3 separate regions of the Homo sapiens genome follow, and all the other regions are linked to region 3. The links come from fine-mapping of genetic effects on gene expression. A gene starts in region 3. Each other region holds a variant in brackets. All regions are shown on one strand. Distances are from middle to middle.

Region 1 (2,500 bases), 38 kb before region 3:
GAGAGCTGGGACCCATGAGACTGCCAGCTCCAGCAACCAAGGAGAGAATTCCATCATTTCTGTGGCTCACGAGCCTGGGTCAAGCGTGAGCTGGTGCTGTTCTCTCACAGACTCCACTTTCCCCAATTATCCACTGCTTTTTGTTTTTTGGGGTTTTTTTTTTTACTCTATTACTCACTGCCAGTAAGTAAAACAATTACCCTTCCTCCACTAAAAGAAAGGAAAGCAATCTGCCCACCCTGTGAGCTGCCGGGCTGGTCTCTCAGAGGAAACATCCTAAAAGCAAGGCTGGAGCACGCGACGCCCAACACAACAAACGCAGAGCGGGTTTCTCCACAGCGGCTCCCAGCAGATGAAAACCCCACCTGGGGGCAAAACCCATCCCTGCCCCAAACCCCACCTCCGGCAGCGCCCATCCCTTCCCCAAACCCCACCTGGGGGCAGAGCCCATCCCTGCCCCAAACCCCACCTGGGGGCAGAGCCCATCCCTGCCCCGAACCCCACCTGGGGGCAGAGCCCATCCCTGCCCCGAACCCCACCTGAGGAACAAAGCCCAGAGCCACAGAGGAGCCATCTGCCCAGGGGCCATGCATGCCAGGCCTGGAAGAACCTGTGCAGAGGCCACGGGGAGACAGACACACCCGCCCTCGCTGGGCTCAGCCCCTGGTCCCACAAAAGGGAGCGGAGCACAATCCCAACACCAGCACCGGATTTTCAACACAGCAAGAACGATGGCAACAGTGACACCTCAGGGGCCAGCTGCCTGCCCAGAGCTCAACAAAGTCAGGGCGGGGCTTTCCGGAAAGTTCAAGAGGCTCCAGCAGGAGGGTGCGGGGAGGGCGGGAGGCAGGGTGGGAGGGAGGGAGGGGAAGAGGGTGGGAGGGCGGACCGGAAGCCATGCAGACTCCATGCAGACACTGGCACCACGCAGAGCCCGCAGAGCACCACCTCCTCACCCCACAGGGACACCTGCAAATACCAAGAAAAGTCAGACAACTTCACTGTGTTGAATGAGCAGCTACTTTTCAACATAAATTGGCAGGTGACC[G/A]AGAAACACAGAAACTAAAACTACAAGCAGACATCTGCTCCTGGCCCTGGCCCCAGAGCTCATATCAAACCTGCCCTCCTGCTGAGACCAGCCACGAAGACTGAACACTCTCTCCTAATTCCAGGAGAAAGAAAACAAGAAAAAGAAAAAAAGACTGAACACATCAGAGAGCAATGAAGGTAGCCCAGTGACGAGGACCCAAGGCCCTGAAGAGAAGGGACAGGCTGAGAGGCGAGGGGCAGGGCCTTCTCCCCCCTTCCTGAGGCCACTGACCACTGGCTGGGGAGGAAGGCCCATGTCTGGCACCTGCAGGCTGGAGAGGCACACACGGAGACCAGGTCTACACAGGAGCCAGGACTACCGCCGCCAAACGCCAAAGATGGCAACCAGAGAACACAGCCCCATGCTGCACACAGGCAGTTGCACGAGGCACCTGCGGAATCCTGAGTGAGGGGTGGGAGGTGGAGGAGGGAAGCAGAGTGGCTGCTGAGAGGAGAAGGGGCCAAGCGAAGCGTGACTCACAAAGCCAGGAAGAGAAAAGGAGGAATCAGGGCCTGGGGATAGAGTCACGGACGGCCTCCGGCTGGGCCCTACAGAGGGTTGTGTCCTGGGAAGGAGAGAGACCCGGAATGAGAACGGGACGCTTCCCCAAGCCTGAGACGCGCGCATACCCCGGGCCTGCGCAGAGCAGGTGCCCTGACTCCACTTTGCCCGCAGGCCGGGGCCAGGGCCTCTTGAGGAGACCAGGCCACGGCACCCAGCAAGTGCCCAGGCGCACAGTGAGGGGTGGGGGGCATCCAACACGCCTGGAGATCAGGAGAAAAGGCGGGGGCTAGACTCGAAAGAAACTTTCACTACTGTACCCAAAAAGATTAACAAAGAGAAGGAAAACTTCACCGAAAAACGGGAATTTAATAAAAAAGAAAGCCAGACTTCCATCTCCAGCCATGATCAAGTACCCAGGACTAGACAGGCACTGCCATGGCAGACCCAACGAACAGGAAAGAAATGTCCTCACGGGTCCTCAGACCCCAACGGCAAGCAGGCTGCCGGGAGAAGGGAAACGGAGACGACTCTGCCACCAGCCTGGACTTCCGCCTGCAACGTTCTAGCACTTTCTAGCAGGGGCCAGCCACCTGCCCAGAGCTCAACAAAGTCAGAGCAGGGCTTTCCGTTCGAGAGGCTCCAGTAGGAGGGCACAGGGGGCGGGAGGCAGGGTGGTCAGAGCGGGTCCACAGCAGAACCCAAGGAAACAGACGTCAGAGTGCACCATGGCTGGAACATGGGGGGCAAAGACCAGGAACGGAAGGACCTGGCTGAGGGCGGGCTCCAGACCCCGCCAACATGTGCGCGATGGGCCTCAGCGTCCAGGAAGCAAAGGCCCTCACAAGCCACCCCCTCAGACCAGAGAGTCCAAGGACGGGCCACAAGGCCGAAGTGTTGCTCTAAGCA
Region 2 (2,500 bases), 43 kb before region 3:
CTCTGCCCTACCTGGGACAGTGGCACCCTCACCCTGTCAACTCCCGGAGGGGGAGCTCAGAAGCGGGACGAGCCGAGGGAGTATGTCGGATGGGGGTGTGGACATCACACAAACGGCAGCACCCCATACACTGACCGTAAGCGTGCTGCTATTCCAATTGCAAGAAGAGACAGCAAGGGGATGTTTCTGGGAAATAGCTGCTTCTAGAGTTCACACAGCAAATAAACAAGATGAGCCGGGAACATTCCAAAATAGAAGAGGAATACAGGCAATTAAAATACAGTGATAGGCCAGTGCAATGGCTCACAGCTATAATCCCAACACTTTGGGAGGCTGAGGTAGGAGGATCACTTGAGCCCAGCCTGGGCAACACAGTGAGACCCTATCTCTAAGCCATAAATAAAATAAAACATAGCGATAAAACTACAAGAATTCGGCCGGGCGCGGTGGCTCGCGCCTGTAATCCCAGCACTTTGGGAGGCCGAGGTGGGCGGATCACCTGAGGTCAGGAGTTCGAGACCAACCTGGCCAACATGGGGAAAACCTGTCTCCGCTAAAAATATAAAAATTAGGCAGGCATGGTGGCAGGCGCCTGTAATACCAGCTACTTGGGAGTGAGGCTGAGGCAGGAGAATCACCTGAACCCAGGAGGCGGAGGTTGCAGTGAGCCAAGATCATACCACTGTACTCCAGTGTGGGGGACAGGGCGAGACTACATCTCAAAAACAAACAAAAACTATAAGAATGAGAATAGTGTGGTACTGACATGTGGACAGACATATGGATCAGAGTATCAAGTCCAGAAATGAACCAAGTATACAGGGTAACCTAGGACAAAAGCAGCGCTACAAATTGATGTAGGAAGTGTGGTTATCACGCATCCAGTGTGGAGATAACAGATCAGGTCTGCACAGAACCAAGGCTGGGGCTAAGCCTTACATTTCACATCAGAATAGATCCAACGGAACCAGACACAGACACAAGAGAAAAATAAAAGCATGAGCTCATTTGTAAACATA[T/C]GTGCTTCAGGGAGAGATCTCAGGATGGCACTAAACTGAGAGTCTTTTAAAGAAAGATGGATACATCTGCTTATGTAAAAATTAAAAATACGGCTGGGCGTGGTGGCTCATGCCTGTAGCCCCAGCACTTTGGGAGGCCAAGGCGGTAAGATCACTCGAGCCAGGAGTTTGAGACCTGCCTGGGCAACAAAGTGAGACACCCTCTCTCTTAAAAATTAACATTAAAAATAAAAAATTCCATGGATGGAAAACACACCATAAGAGAAATCCAAAGACAAAAAAAAGGAATAAGAAAAAAACCTGGCAACTCCTATCTGGAAGGGCTTCGATTTCCTAATAGTTAACAAGCTCCTACAAACCCACTTGAAACCCGCCAACACCAAACAGAAACAGAGGCACAGGCTATGACCAGACAGTTCATGAAACAGTTCATAAAACCACAGAGAGCTCCTGATCCCAAGACACTAGGCTGGTCTCACTCAGAATAAGGGAAACATAAACTCCCCCCATCAAGATTCCAGCAATACCTTCCCTCTCACCCTCACTCCTGGGTGTTTCTCTCATTTCCACAAGGAGCACATGTTGTTATATTTACAATCAGGAAAAACACTACTCCAGTTCAAAATCAGTGAGCCCACACACAGAAGTAGGCTTACAGAAACTTTTCCTAATCCCAAAGTATATAGTACCAGAAATGTAATATGGTTTTCTTTTTTAAGGGCTCAACAGCTGAGGAGTTTCTATTCTTGAAAAATCTGTTGACATTTTTCACTTAAATGTGAACCATAAGGCCAGGAGCAGTGGCTCACACCTGTAATCCCGGCACTTTGGGAGGCCGAGATGGGTGGATCGCCTGAGGTCAGGAGTTCGAGACCAGCCTGGCCAACATGGTGAAACCCCATCTCTACTAAAAATACAAAAATTAGCCAGGCATGGTGGCAGGTGCCTCTAAGCCCAGCTCCTCAGGAGGCTGAGGCAGTAGAACTGCCTGAACCGGGAAGGCGGAAGTTGCAGTGAGCCAAGATCACGTCACTGCACTCCAGCCTGGGCAACAGAGCGAGACTCCGTCTCAAAAAAAAAAAAAAAAAAAAAAAAAATTGAACCACAGCAATCACACACATACGTTGTGTTTCTGTATATAAAATCAAATCTAAAATAACAGCATAATTAAAACATTTCCGTTACTGATCATCTTCACATGCCATCTATTCAAGAAAACAGGAACGTCACTTACTTGCAAAGAATTCCGAGAAACAGGACATTTGGTTCATCTCAACCTTCTCTGCAGTCCTCTGGCTGATGGGGAAACCACCACAACTCAAACTAGCTAAGAAAAGCACACCCTGGCCGCGCGCGATGGCTCACACCTGCAATCCCAGCACTTTGGGAGGTCAAGGTGGGAAGACGGCTTGAGCCCAGGAGTTTGTGACCAGCCTGGGCAACATGGCATAACCCCGTAGCATGGTAGCATGCCTGGCTAA
Region 3 (2,500 bases):
TACGCCCCCACCATCAGGAGCCCCCGACACTGGGCTTCCCCTACTCCCGTAATTTTTTTTGTTGCTGTTGTTTGAGACCAAGTCGCACTCTGTCGCCTAGGGTGGAGTGCAATGGCCCAGATGTTGGCTCAGTGCAACCTCCGCCTCCCGGGTTCAAGCCATTCTTCTGCCTCACCCTCCCGAGTAGCTGGGATTACAGGCGCCCGCTACCACGCCCGGCTAATTTTTGTATTTTTGTAAGTAGAGACGGGGTTTTACCATCTTCACCAGGCTGGTCTCGAACTCCTGACCTCAGGTGACCCGCCCGCCTCGGCCTCCCTAAGTGCTGAGATTACAGGCGTGAAACCGCGCCCGGCCTGCTCCCATTTCTTCAAGTTCACCTCGTCTCTGGTCAGGGCCAGCGGGGCACCCTCGGCTCGCCTTCAAGACAGGGGCAGAGGAGGCGGCCCCCAGGCGTCAGCTTAGGCCCCGCGCAGACCTCGAGGGATCCCAGCCCCAGCTCCCGGCACGGCCTCGGCCCCGTGGTGTCCCGTGCCCCGCGTCAGGGCCTCTTCGATGCCTCCCTGACGCCCTCAACCCCTCCCTACCCCGTCTGCCTCTCTTGGACCCCTCGGACCCTCCCTAACCGCCTCAAATACCTCCCTGGCCCCCTCAACGTGGTGTCACCGCGGCCGCTCCCCACCCACACCCAAAACACCACATCGCCGGGCCCCGCGCCCAACTGGTGGCCCCCGGCCGGGGCCACCGCCCCCGCCACTCCCAGCTCCGAGGCCTCCACCTGGCAGGGACCCCCCGCCCCTCCCGGCCCCGCCACCCCCGCGCGCTCACCCTCACGGCAACGCCTCCTCCAGATGGTGTCGGTGTGGAGGATGCGCCGGAACTTCGTGCAGACCTGGGCCAAGCTGGGTAGGTCCGTGCCCGGCAGCGACGCGAAGATCTCCACCAGCAGCTCGGGCGGCAGCTCCAGCAGCGAGCAGCGCGGGGGCGGCGGCGAGGGGCCCGCGCACAAGCCGCCCCCGACCCCGGCGCTAGCCTCGATGCGCTCCTCCTCGGGGTCTGTGTCCGGCTCGCTGTCGGCCGCCGCCGTCTCGGCCGGGCCCCGGCGCTGCTGGCGGCGCCGACATCCGCGCGACGGGCCCACGCCGCAAAGGCGAGCACACACCGCCATGCCGCCCAGTGACGGCCACTGCTGCCGCCTGTGCGCACGCTCCAGCGCGGCCCCGCCCCGCCAGCGCCGAGCCACGCCCCCGCCGCAGAGCTCGCCACGCCCCCTGGAGAGCCTAGCCCCGCCCCTACGTAGAGCTCCGCCCCGGCCGCGCCACCCCCTCCCCGCGGGGCGGCGACCTCAGAGACCCCGCACTGCTGCCCTCCCCTCCAGCGTGAGGGCGCCGCCCGTGACGGGCATGAGAAAAGAAAGTGGTGATGCCGAGTGCAAAACGTTAGACTGCCCCGTGTGAGGCTCGAACTCACGACCTTCAGATTATGAGACTGACGCGCTGCCTACTGCGCTAACGAGGCTGCTCGGCGACCACTTCGCGCCGCGGCTTTTGTGGAGATAGGGGTCGCCCCTCGCGCCCGTGCGTCCCGCTTCCGGCGCCCGAAACTGTGCCGCGCCGGCCGGTGAGTAGAAAGATGCGCCTTACAGCCTCCAAATACAGAGGCAGCAGCCAGAACCCCAAAGGGCGCCTAGAAGCCCTTTTGTCCATTGAAACAACGCGCGTTCCATCGTCTCCGCCTTATGGTAACCAAAAGGCCCGAGCTGCGGAGCTCTGCAGGGACCTTCGGGGATCCCGAGCTCCCTGCGGAAGCCCCGGGGAGGGCTTGGAGGGGCGGCGGCCGGCGCGGCCCAAGAGATCCGGGGATGCGCGCCCGGTCTGGAAAGGGAGGCCCTGCCATGCGGCGCCGCCCAAAGGGCGCCTGTTCCTGCAGCTGCTGGGAGCCGCGCACGCCTGCTCCAGCTGGGCTCCGCCGAGGCCGCTGAGCGGGGTCGTCTCCCAGGTCCGCGGGTGGTGACCGCGAAGGCGTCCTCTCACCTGAGCAGCCGCGCACGTCGCCGTGGGCTCGCCTCGGACCCCATCTCTTGGAGGCCCAGGCGGGAGTATCAATCGAGGCCAGGAGCTCGAGACCGGCCTGGGCAATACAGCGAGACCCTGTCTACAAAACAAAATTTTAGAAAGAGAAGCTGAGACGGGAGGATCGCTTGATCCCAGGAGGCCGAGGCTGTAGTGACCCGTGATGGTGCCACTGCACTTCAGCCTGGGCAACACAGCGTGACCCTGTCTCCAAAACAAACAAAAAACAAAAATAGCCACAAATGGCTGGGCGCGGTGGCTCACGTCTGTAATCCCAGCACTTTGGGAGGCGGAGAAGGGTGCATCACCTGAGGTCAGGAGTTTGAGACCCGCCTGACCAACATGGTGAAACCCTGTCTCTTCAAACAAACAAACAAACAAACCACACAGGCCAGGCGCAGTGGCTCACGCCTGTAATTCTAGCACTT

Evidence for each region. PIP is the estimated chance that this variant, and not a neighbour inherited with it, causes the effect.
Region 1: its variant is fine-mapped to the expression of FBXO31 in whole blood (TOPMed, PIP above 0.99).
Region 2: its variant is fine-mapped to the expression of FBXO31 in whole blood (TOPMed, PIP above 0.99).

The regions. Positions count from the first base shown.
Region 1 is chr16:87,344,489-87,346,988 of GRCh38, forward strand. All of the region lies in intron 3 of FBXO31 (F-box protein 31), which reads right to left. Among named protein-coding and RNA genes, the nearest start is that of C16orf95-DT, 28 kb to the left of the region's middle. RefSeq lists enhancers at 1,657-2,212, 2,213-2,500. The variant G/A (reference allele first, on the strand shown) is at 1,049.
Region 2 is chr16:87,339,566-87,342,065 of GRCh38, forward strand. All of the region lies in intron 5 of FBXO31 (F-box protein 31), which reads right to left. Among named protein-coding and RNA genes, the nearest start is that of C16orf95-DT, 23 kb to the left of the region's middle. The variant T/C (reference allele first, on the strand shown) is at 1,020.
Region 3 is chr16:87,382,577-87,385,076 of GRCh38, forward strand. FBXO31 (F-box protein 31) reads right to left here and starts at 1,200. Exons shown (of 9, transcript NM_024735.5): 1 at 829-1,200. The coding sequence starts at 1,168. TRM-CAT6-1 (tRNA-Met (anticodon CAT) 6-1) reads right to left here and starts at 1,518; the gene lies at 1,446-1,518. LOC124903747 (a long non-coding RNA gene) reads left to right here and starts at 1,357. Exons shown (of 2, transcript XR_007065168.1): 1 at 1,357-1,620. RefSeq lists silencers at 556-795, 936-1,595 and enhancers at 1,003-1,656, 1,657-2,308.